Regions from separate parts of the Homo sapiens genome. Here region 1 is linked to region 2. The links come from fine-mapping of genetic effects on gene expression. A gene starts in region 2. The other region holds a variant in brackets. All regions are shown on one strand. Distances are from middle to middle. Region 1 has its middle 20 kb from the start of CACNG5. Region 2 holds the start of PRKCA (protein kinase C alpha).

Region 1 (5,375 bases), 510 kb before region 2:
TTCCAGCTTATCTTCTAAGCCCTCACCAGAATTGTCCTTAATGCTCCACTCCAAGCAATGCAATCTCTTTAATGCCTGTTCCTTCAAACTCTTCTAACCTCTGCTCATTATCCTGTTCCAAAAGCCACTTCCACATTTTCAGGTATCTTTATAGCAACACCCCACTCTTGGTACCAGTTTTCTGTCTTTATCCATTTTGTGTTGCTATAACAGAACACCTGAGACTGAGTAGTTTATAAAGAAGCAATTTGGCTTATAATTCTGGTGTCTAGAAAGTTCAAGATTTGGCATATGCATCTGGTGAGGGACTCAGACTGGTTCAACTCATGGCGGGGGAGTTGAAAGTGGAAGGGGAGCTGGCATGTGCAAAGAGATCACTTGGTAAGAGAGGACGCAAGAGAGCAAAATCAACGAAGTCAGACTCAGACTATTTTTAACAACCCACTCTTCATGGAATATCCTTTCCCTTGAGAGTGAGAACTCACTCACCCCTAAGGGAGGACATTAGCCTATTCATGAGAAATCCACTCCCATGACCCACATACCTCCCATAGGCCCCACCTCCCAACACTGCCATAATGGAGATCAAATTTCATCATGAGTTTCGGTGGGGACAAACAAACCATATCCAAATCATGGCAAGATATTTGTATTGACCTTCGTCCTGATGTACTCTTATTTCATTATTCACTTGAAGTCTTTTACTTGAAAGCCACTTAAAAATCTATAAAAAGAGGCAAAAATCAAAAACACTCCTGGCTATGAGCCCTGGTAGTCACTGAACCCCTGGTGCAGAGTTTAAAGCTCACATAAATATTTGTTGACCGAATGAAGGCACTTGATAACAAACCAACTAAGAACAGCATGACATTGAAAAGAAACACTCGTTACTACTTGATCTGAGAGCAAGAAAATGTCACCATAGAAAACAAGGCTTTGGCCAGGTGTGGTGGCTCATGCCTGTAATCCCAGCACTTTGGGAGGCCGAGGCAGGCAGATCACTTGAAGTCAGGAGTTTGAGACCAGCCTCTGGCCAACATGATGAAATCTTGACTCTACCAGAAAAAGACAAAAATTAGCCAGGCGTGGTGGTGCATGCCTGTAGTCCCAGCTACTTGGAAGGCTGGGACAGAAGGATTGTTTAAACCCAGGAGACGAAGGCTTCAGTGAGCTGAGACTGCATCACTGCACTCCAGCCTGGGTGACAGAGAGAGACTTCATCTAAAAAAAAAAGAAAAGAAAAGAAAACAGGGTTCAAGAAGAAAAACAGGAAATAAGAAGTACCAAGAGTCTAAAAAATGTTCAGCTATTGGCCGGGTGCAGTGGCTCACGCCTGTAATCCCAGCACTTTGGGAGGCCGACGTGGGTGGATCACGAGGTCAGGAGATCGAGATCATCCTGACTAACACGGTGAAACCCCGTCTCTACTAAAAATATAAAAAGTTAGCCGGGCGTGGTGGCGGGCGCCTGTAGTCCCAGCTACTCGGAAGGCTGAGGCAGGAGAATGGCAGAGCTTGCAGTGAGCCAGGATCGCACCACTGCACTCCAGCCTGGACGACAGAGTGAGACTCCGTCTCAAAAAAAAAAAAAAAAAAAAAAGTTCAGCTATTGTATTTCCAGGAATCCAGTGGAAGATATAATCTAAAATGCATTCAAAATTTTGGGAACAAAGGTGTTCAACAATGAGTTTTCAAAATAATTTAAAAACCAGGAAAACCTAAAATTCCAACAATAGGGGAATTAGTAAGAAAATGTCAATTTCATTCCCAAAACATTGAATGTCTGCTACGTTGCTTTGTAGTTAAGTAATTAATCAAATTCCACATAAACCAATGAAATACAAGTGCAAAGCATAGAGTTGTTTCAGTGAACACAAAATGGAATGTTTAAGAAAAAGAATAACGAGTTTTTAAAAACAGCTACAGAGACAGTTGTGGGCAAGGCAACTGTAAAAGATTAAGAAATATTGCAACAATCTAAATGGACTTTGCATTCAGCTTTCTTTGTGAATATCTGGCTTCTCTTCGAATAAACCCTAACTGGAAACTGTAAGACAAGTATTATGGGTATAGTTAATGCAAGAAAGAAATTCCCTGCTCAGAGAGAAGTCCCCACCCTTACTGAATGGTCATGCATTTATTGGCTTTTAAGTTACAATAAAGGCCAGGCACGGTGGCTCACACCTGTAATCCCAGCACTTTGGGAGGCTGAGGCGGGTGGATCACAAGGTCAGGAGTTCGAGACCAGCCTGGCCAACATAGTGAAAACCCGCCTCTGCTAAAAATACAAAAATTAGCCGGGCATGATGATGCAAACCTGTAGTCGCAGCTACTCGGGAGGTTGAGGCAGGATAATTGCTTGAACTCGGGGGGTGGAGGTTGCAGTGAGCCAAGATCACACCACTGCACTCCAGCCTGGGCAACAAAGTGAAACTCCGCCTCAAAAAAAAAAAAAGTCATAACAAAATGTTTAAAGGATGTGTGTGTTAACATCTGTGATCCTAGCTTTCAGTGACCAATGTCAAGGCCCAGTGGAGTCTCATAAGAGGGCTTTGAGGTTGATATGGTTTGTCTGTGTCCCCACCCAAATCTCATCT[C/T]GAATTGTAGCTCCCATAATTCCCATGTGTTGTGGGAGGGACTCAGTGGGAGATAATAGAATCATGGAGGCGGTTTCCCCCATACTATTCTCGTGGCAGTGAATAAGTCTCGTGAGATCTGATGGTTTTATCAAGGTTATCCCTTTCAGTTGATTCTCATTCTCTCTTGTCTGCCGTCATGTAAGACATGCCTTTCGCCTTCTATCATGATTGTGAGCACCCCACCCCCAGCCACGTGGAACTGTGAGTCCATTAAACCTCTTTTTCTTTGTAAATTACTCAGTCTCGTGTATGTCTCTATCAGCAGCGTGAAAACAGGCTAATACCATGGTACAGTCTTGAAAAGATAACAAGATGATGAATAATAAATAAAGTTAGCAAGGAATCAAAAAGTTTAACCATCTTGGGAAGTTGGGATTTTCTTTTCCTCATCTGTATTAGCTACAATAAGCAGGTGTTATTTTTTGTAAATTTTCCAAAAACCCAGAAGCATTCCCACAGTATTCTGACCTAACCAAGCCCAACCTTTCCTCCCCGGGCTGCCCAGTGCCCCCAAGAAATCAGTGATTTCTCACAAGTTGTTCTGCTCACTGGATGATGCTTGCCTTGGATTGTTTTTGACTCCTGGGGTAGGTGGAGCTGGGGTCTCAATGTAGGGCTGTCCTGTGGTGGGAGGGGGAGCCTGGGGCCCACCAGCCGTTCCTGCCCGCTTCCTCCTTCCTCCTGGGCCTTCCAGGCAAGTCAGTCAGGTGAGGGCGGCTGCAGAGGCACCTGCTGTGTTCTGAGAACTGTGATGCTATTTTTCTCTCTCCTCCCACGCCCAGACAGCTCCAAAAAAAAAAAAAATGTCGAGAGAAGGAGGGTGATGGTGGAAGAAAGCCTTCTGGAAACAGTTCCAGGAGGGCATCTAGTCTCATAGGCATCAGAGTCAGCTAAGGGCAAGGAACATCCCCCTTGGTAATAGGATGGACTTTGAATGAAACCACAGTGGGGGGAGAAGTTCCCCAACAGGGTCTGGCCCTGAAGCTCCCTACCCAATGCTACATCTGACCCTCTCATGGGACAAGGCTAGGAAGATCAGACTCAGTGCCCAGCCTGGCTGTGCTGCTTAGGAGTTGCGTATCTGGAAGCTGGTTAATTACTTTGGGGTTCAGTTTCTCCATCTGTGAGATGTGAACAATGGCCTCCAGCCCATGGAGGTGTCATGAGGATTAAATGAGATGGGTGTGTTCAGATGACAAGCTAGGCACTGCGCGCATGCCAGCCCTTCCCCTCCTCCCTGCGTGCTGGTGTCTGCTTGTTTGGGACCTCTCCTTTCCAGCCTTTCCATCAGACCTCAGCCTCCCTGCCTCCTCCCCCAGGAAGGCATCTGGCGTGCTCACATCTCTGCTCTTTCGGTTGGCTCCATTTGTCTGGTGTTGTTCACCTATGTGTTGTTATTTAAGTTCCCTGGAATTCCCTTTCTTCTTCTGTAAAATGGGCACAGTAAACAGCACCTATCTGGGGGCAGGGGCTGTCATTGTGGGATTGAAATAAATGCACATAAAGAACTTAGAAGAGTGCCTGGTACACTTCTGGTAATCAATCAGTGTGTGTGCCTCTGTGTGTGCACATGTGTCTGTGTGCATGCGTGTGTTTGCGTGTCTGTGTGCATGTGTGTGTGTGCATCTCTGTATGCATGTGTGTTCGTGTGTGTGTGCGTGCACAGTTTGCGCGTTCCCATTTACAGCCCCCTTTAGACTTTTGGTTTGTGCCATTTCCACCTGTCTGTTGAGTCCCTGAGCCCACCACTAGCTCTTTCATTTCACTAGAACCATTTTCCACTTTCTCCCCTTATGGCTAGAATAGGCCTCTTTGCAATGTATTTATTGAATTAGCTTTGTTAAAAAAAGAATCTTGGGGAGACATCCAGTTCTGCTTTCTTAGAGCCAAAAGCACTTCTCACCCACTCCCTGCAGGCAATGCCCTGCTCTCTGTGATGTGCACTCCCAGGATGGGGACAGAGTGTGAAAATAGATGGCCTTGGCCTTTGCCCGTGTGCATTAGCATTTTAGCTGAACCATAATTTCATCCCCAGAGCACACAATAAGCCAGGGGCAGGGGGGAAGCTCAGGGAGTTAAATAATCACTCAAGTGTAACCATAGGCAGCCATCGCCTCTAGATTCTGGGCTGAAGGACAGAGGTTGAGAACTGGTGTTTCCTAGGCTGAAGCTCATCATGAGTTTGAGAGATGATCTTTAATTAGTTCTTTTTTGTATATCTTATCTACTTCATTAGTGTGTGAACACCTCCAGGGCAAATCCCATGGCCCAGTAAGGGTGTCTGGAACACGTTGCTAGGCTCAGAGCAGTTTTGGGAACGATTAATTGACTCAGTCATTCAATGAACATTTTGAGCTCCTATTATCTACCAGGCTCTGCTCTAGGCACTGGGATGTAGCAGCAAACAGGATGGACAAGCCGGCTCCTCTTAGAGCTTCTATTCTCATGGGAAAGGGTGTGCGTATACACACACACACACACACACACAGAGAGAGAGAGAGAGAGAGAGAGAGAGACAGAGACAGAGAGAGAGAGAACTCACTCTCCCCAACCATTGAATCCTTGGTCCCAGAGCTGGGCATGTGAGGATGAAAGGCCATGAGGAAGGCTGGGTGATGGGAGCCACAGAGGGCTTTCAACAGGGAAGGGGCCTGCTCAGGCAAGGTCCTGCTGGCTGCTGAGCAGAGAGGGCCATGAGGGTCAAGGAGGCCAGAGAGAAAGAACAGGGGAGATGGAG
Region 2 (5,375 bases):
TTCCAATTGGTTGGTTTACAATTAAATGCAGAGTGCTGCAGGGATCCTCAGGGGGGCATTTTCCACTTCACAATACTGGTGGTGACCTGAGCGCCTCTTCAGCTCACCAGGGGCTGATCCTTCAAGGGCAACTGATAGTGGAAAGACAATAGCTAGCCTCAGTATGCTGCAAGTCCCTTTCTAACTCTCCTACTTCCTGCAAAAGTCACCAGCAGTCTGTTCCCTTTTAATGGACTCTCACAGCTGACCTCCTCTTAACCAAATGCAATATTCTCTTTGCCCTGATGCTCCGAAATTTTTATTTTAAATAGCCTTATCTACGACTACCTACTCCTTTGAGCACAGTCGCTTCATATGCCGACTAGACAGTGGAAATCACTCATAGAGGTGGCTGTGCTTTTCATAAAAGTGTACTTGGGAGCAGATGTCTAAAAAGGAAAGGAAAAATTAAACACCTTATTCGCACCACGATCATGGGACCTGCCCTTTGGGATGTTTTTCCCCAGGTGTGATGGATTCCGACAGAGCCATCCATACTATGCTCACCCTAGTGGCCCAAGATACCTGTGCCACACAGCTGGCTGGTGGCAGGATTCACTCCGTGACTGCCACCCTGTGCAGCTCCCCCTGGCCTAGAAGGAGAGGGAGCTAAGAAGCCCTAGCCATAGCTCTGTCTTGCCCGGAACTTCCTACACCACAAAGAAGAGGTAGAAGAGTCAGGACGTCGGGCAACTTAAAAGAAAAACCAAACTACTGCTGCTCTAACTAGAGGACCTAGAGCTCCTTTAGTTCCAGCTTTCAAAACTTTTGTGTGGTGACGGGGATCTGGGAAGAAGGGTCACACACCTTTTGAGGATCAGATGAAAGCTGTAATTCTCTCACCAGGAAAAAGATTCACAAACACAATTTCCCTCAGTTTTACAGGGTTCAGAGACCCCTGAAGCCCTTCTATGTATCGATTCTCCATAAGCCCCCAGGGACCCTCCGAGTTAAGAATGCCTGAATTCATTGGCGATTACCTGATCTCTGACCTCTGGCCCTTATATTATTTTTCTTAAATAAGGCCTCTGCCCTCATCAACAGGGTTACAGGTCTAATCTCGAGTTGACAGGGTCTGTTTCATTTTTTTTGAGACGGAATCTCGCTCTGTCTCACCCAGGCTGGAGTGCAGTGGCCCGATCTCGGCTCACTGCAGCCTCCGCCTCCCGGGTTCAAGCGAGTCTCCCGTCTCAGCCTCCCGAGTAGCTGGGATTACAGGCGTGTGCCACCACGCCCGGCTAATTTTGTATTTTTAGTAGACGGGGTTTCACCATGTTTGCCAGGCTGGTCTCGAACTACTGACCTTAGGTGATCCGCCTGCCTCGGCCTCCCAAAGTGCTGGGATTACAGGCGTGAGCCACCGCGCCTGGCCGACAGGGTCTATTTTAAATGAGTCCCTCTGCCCTTGTGCCATTTGCCTGCTAGAACTCCCCCTCCCCCACTGCAAGCTTTCAACAGTTTGCTCTCTCTCTCTCTGCTCACTCAGAAAAGTCAGTCTCTCCGTGCCCAGTAGATGCAGCCTACAGTAGGCAGGGGCCCAAGATGCCAGCGCAGTCCAGCCCGATGGGAAGCACAAACACAACCCCCCCACCCCGAACGCGCCCAGCCTGGCTCGCCAGCAACTTGGACCGCGCGCAGTGCAATCGCCGCCGCTCCCCCGTTACTCCGGGGCGCGTTTCTCCGGGAACCTTTGCCCCCTTAGGGCCTCTCCTCCTCCCCTGTCCCCTGGGCTCACACCCCGGCAAGCGGCCGCTCCGCTGGGTGCGTGCGGGTGGGCGCGCCCGGGGAGGTGAGGGGCCCGGCCCGGAGAGGGATCCCCTTCGCCACCGTACGGGGCCAGCCTCCCTCTCGCGCCAGGGGGTGTGTGTGGCGGGACGGCGACGTCCCGGGAGTCCTGCCCGCCGGTGTCAGGGCCGGGCGCGCGTGTCACTCCGGGCGAAGAGTTCGGACTCCCGCCGGTTCCAAGTTATCGGAGTGAGCCAGCCCCGGGGCGGACGCGCCGGAGCGCCGGGTGCCGGGACCCGGAGGCGGGGAGGAGCGGGGCAGGAGTGCCCGGCCCGGCACCTACCAGATGAAGTCGGTGCAGTGGCTGCAGAAGGTGGGCTGCTTGAAGAAGCGCGCGATGAATTTGTGGTCCTTCACCTCGTGCACGTTCTTCTGCCTCAGCGCCCCTTTGCGGGCGAAGCGGTTGGCCACGTCCTGAGACGCCGTGGAGTCGTTGCCCGGGAAAACGTCAGCCATGGTCCCCCCCAACCACCTCTTGCCTCCGCCGGGGAGCTGCGGCCGCGGAGGGCCGGGTGGGCGGGGGCGGCGGGGGAGAGGTGCGGGCTCGGGGCGACCCCGGGCGCGGGGCGCGGGCCGGTGGCCGAGGTCGCGGCGAGGGGGCGCGGCGGGGGCCGGGGAGAGTCGGGCTGGTGCTGCGCGGAGCGGGAGCGGGAGCCGGAGCCGCTGGCTCGCCCGCTGGCCCCAGGCTCACTGACAGCCCGGTGCCCGGCGCTCGCGCTTCCTACTCGCGGCGGCAGAGGCGGCCCGGAGCGGCACCGCCCACCGCGCATGCCCCGAGCGCGAGGCCGCGAGGACGAGCGGCGGGGGCGCGCGGGCCGGGCGCGCGCGGGGGTGCGGCGAGGGTGCGGCGGCGGCGGCGCTGAGCGGACCGGACCGAGTGCGGAGGAGGCAGCGAGTGCCTTGCGGTGCTGGGAACACTGGGCAAGGGGAGGCGGCGGCGGCGGCGGCGGCGGCGGCGGCGGCGGCGGCGGCGGCCGGGGGAGGGCCGGCCCGAGTGGGGATGCGGGGGAGGAGGCCGGGAGTGGCGGGTCCGCGCTCCTCCGCCGCCTTTTTCTTTCCTCCCCTTCCTGCGCCCGGCTCTCCTCCCTCTCGCCCTCCTCCGCCTCAGTTCTCCTCCTCTTCTTCCGCTCTTGCCGCCCGGCCTCCTCCTCTCCCGGTCTTCCTTCTCCCACTCCCGCTCTCTCTCTTGTCGACGGGCTCGGAGTCCTGCGCCACCCGTGCCGGGCCGAGAGGAGCCCGCGTCCGGGAGTGGGCTCCACGCGCAGCCCCTGCCCCGGAGCCTCCCGCCCGGTGCTCACCTCCTAACCCCTCAGCACCCGCAGCAGGGAGCCCCTTCCCCATCCTCAGGACCCCCGGTGTCTCCAGGGCACGACGCCCGTGTTTTAGCTGCCTGTACCAGCTTGAGGTTTCACCTGGCCAAAATGTCACTTTCATCACGTGTGCACTAAAAGACCTAGCCCCTAGACCTTCCTACAGGAGGAAGAGAGCGATTTTTAAATAATTAAGCATTGACCCTTTCCCCTACCTTCTCTTCTTGACCTATACCTTATTTCACCTGCGTGTGGTAGAGACTTTTAATTTGTACGTCGGGCATTTATCACCACGTGGGATGGTTAAAGGACTTGTCTTAGGTATTTATCCCGTTATTCAATGGCCACCAGAGCGACGATGTTGATTATCAGGCTTTCTTGATTTTACAAGTCCAGGACCTTAATTTAGAAATCATTTTGCATCCCAAGCTAATTACTGCAATACTGTCAGGTGCAGAGTGCAGCCAGTACGTTTGTAACTTACCAAGTAAAACTGCCTGTGAAAGAGTAGCGGGCATGGCTATGCAAAGGACGCAGGTGGGGATGCACCAGCTAATCACTCGCTGAATATTTATCAGGTCTGCCTGGAGGCCGCTAAAATACATAAGGGAAATAATCATTTCTCAGCGTTTCATTGGTGTTTTGTTTTATTTGCCAGATTCACGAAATCCCCAAAACGACTTTACGAGCTAAAGAGACCAAGAAAGAGAACACGTTTGATCCTTCAATAAATTTATGTTGAAAAAAAAAACTTTTCTAAAATACTTTCTTAGAGCATGTAACATAGGCCAAGTAGAGCTAATATTGTTTTCTTTGAGATTGCCTAATTGTGATGCTTGATGATAGGAATGTCCTTTATATTTTTAACAAATGGAAGCTCTCCTGACTGGCCGTCAGTGGTGCATGCACTTGACTGATCCATTTACAATCTCTTGAGCCAGTCTTGGTGCTTCAAGAGCCTGCACCTGCCTGGTATTCTAGCTGGTCAGAAATTTCGCCACTCATGGTCGCCCCTCGGGTCCAAGGAGTCAAAAAGGGAAGAAGCAAAGAGGAATGAAGAGCAGGGCATGTTGGGGAAATAGTCCCAATTCTCCATGAAACACTAGAAGCATCTCAAGCCATGGTGGTTTATTGCTTGAAAGCAGAAATCAAATGGAACATAGTGGAATGAAATAATTTCTTTTCTCATAGTCGTCTTTTATCTAAGACGGAGATCCTGGCACATTTTACAAAGACAAGCTTATTTCTATGTCCCTGAGGCTTTCATAGGAGGATGGAGAGAGCTGGAGGGTGAAGTTGCTGATAATGGAATCCTGAGTAAAGTCATAGGAAAGACAAGAACAGAATGAGCCCTGGCAGCAGCCTGCGAATCTCCTGTGTACTCCATGGAGTGACTGTCTTAGCTGTCAGTAGATCAGATGGAACAATGTGTCTGTTTTCTTTTAGGTTGTGGCTTTGCATTCTTGCCTCAGTTGTTAGTGTTGTTCCTGGTGGGTACGAGGAGGAATGATTGACTGGAAGTCAACTGATTCATGGTTGGGCTGGGCATGAAAGCATCAATAGCCCACATCTTAGCTCAGTTGGGGAGAGGGGACTGTGCACCCAGAGTGGGGATTTATCAATTACCAAGCAGTGTAACACTGTCCCTAGCAAGGACTGATGGAAATGTGGGCCAGCATCTACTCCTGCAGCCTACCTGAAGTCCCCATGGTATAACTAAAATGGAGGAGATTAAGGACGGGAGAACCCCCTGGGTTGGGGGTAGTCAGTCAGTCATGAGGGCATGAGTAAATTTTATTTTCGAGTCTGCTATTTCATGGGGAAGGTGCGGGAAAAGAACAGGGAATGTCAGACTGAACGCAGAGTTTTTCAGAATCCGCTTCTGTCCTCTGCCTTTGAGGAGTAAGCTCAACACTGTTTGGAGAGGTGTCACCTAGACCAGGGGGACCCAGAGGCTGGAGGCTGGGATCAAAGTCAGACCACCAAACAGATGACTCAGAATCCCAATGGTTTGAAGCCAGCGGTCTTTCAGATACAATTTACAGCTTGCTGCTCTATGCAGCTAACTGGACTGTTTTCAAATGAACCAGGACATTTTCAAATTGGGCAATAGGAATTGCATAAGTATCGAAAAAGCATCATTCTGAGATTTATGGTAACCAAGATGACTTAAGGCTTATATTTTATTCTATGCACCATATTCAAGGTTTAGGAGAGGCAAGGCAACTGCCGAAATGCGTA

Evidence for each region. PIP is the estimated chance that this variant, and not a neighbour inherited with it, causes the effect.
Region 1: its variant is fine-mapped to the expression of PRKCA in whole blood (INTERVAL, PIP 0.91).

The regions. Positions count from the first base shown.
Region 1 is chr17:66,812,745-66,818,119 of GRCh38, reverse strand. No RefSeq gene overlaps it. Among named protein-coding and RNA genes, the nearest start is that of CACNG5, 20 kb to the left of the region's middle. The variant C/T (reference allele first, on the strand shown) is at 2,597.
Region 2 is chr17:66,299,757-66,305,131 of GRCh38, reverse strand. It overlaps PRKCA (protein kinase C alpha), which reads right to left and starts at 2,519. Exons shown (of 17, transcript NM_002737.3): 1 at 2,108-2,519. The coding sequence starts at 2,280. RefSeq lists an enhancer at 1,224-1,725.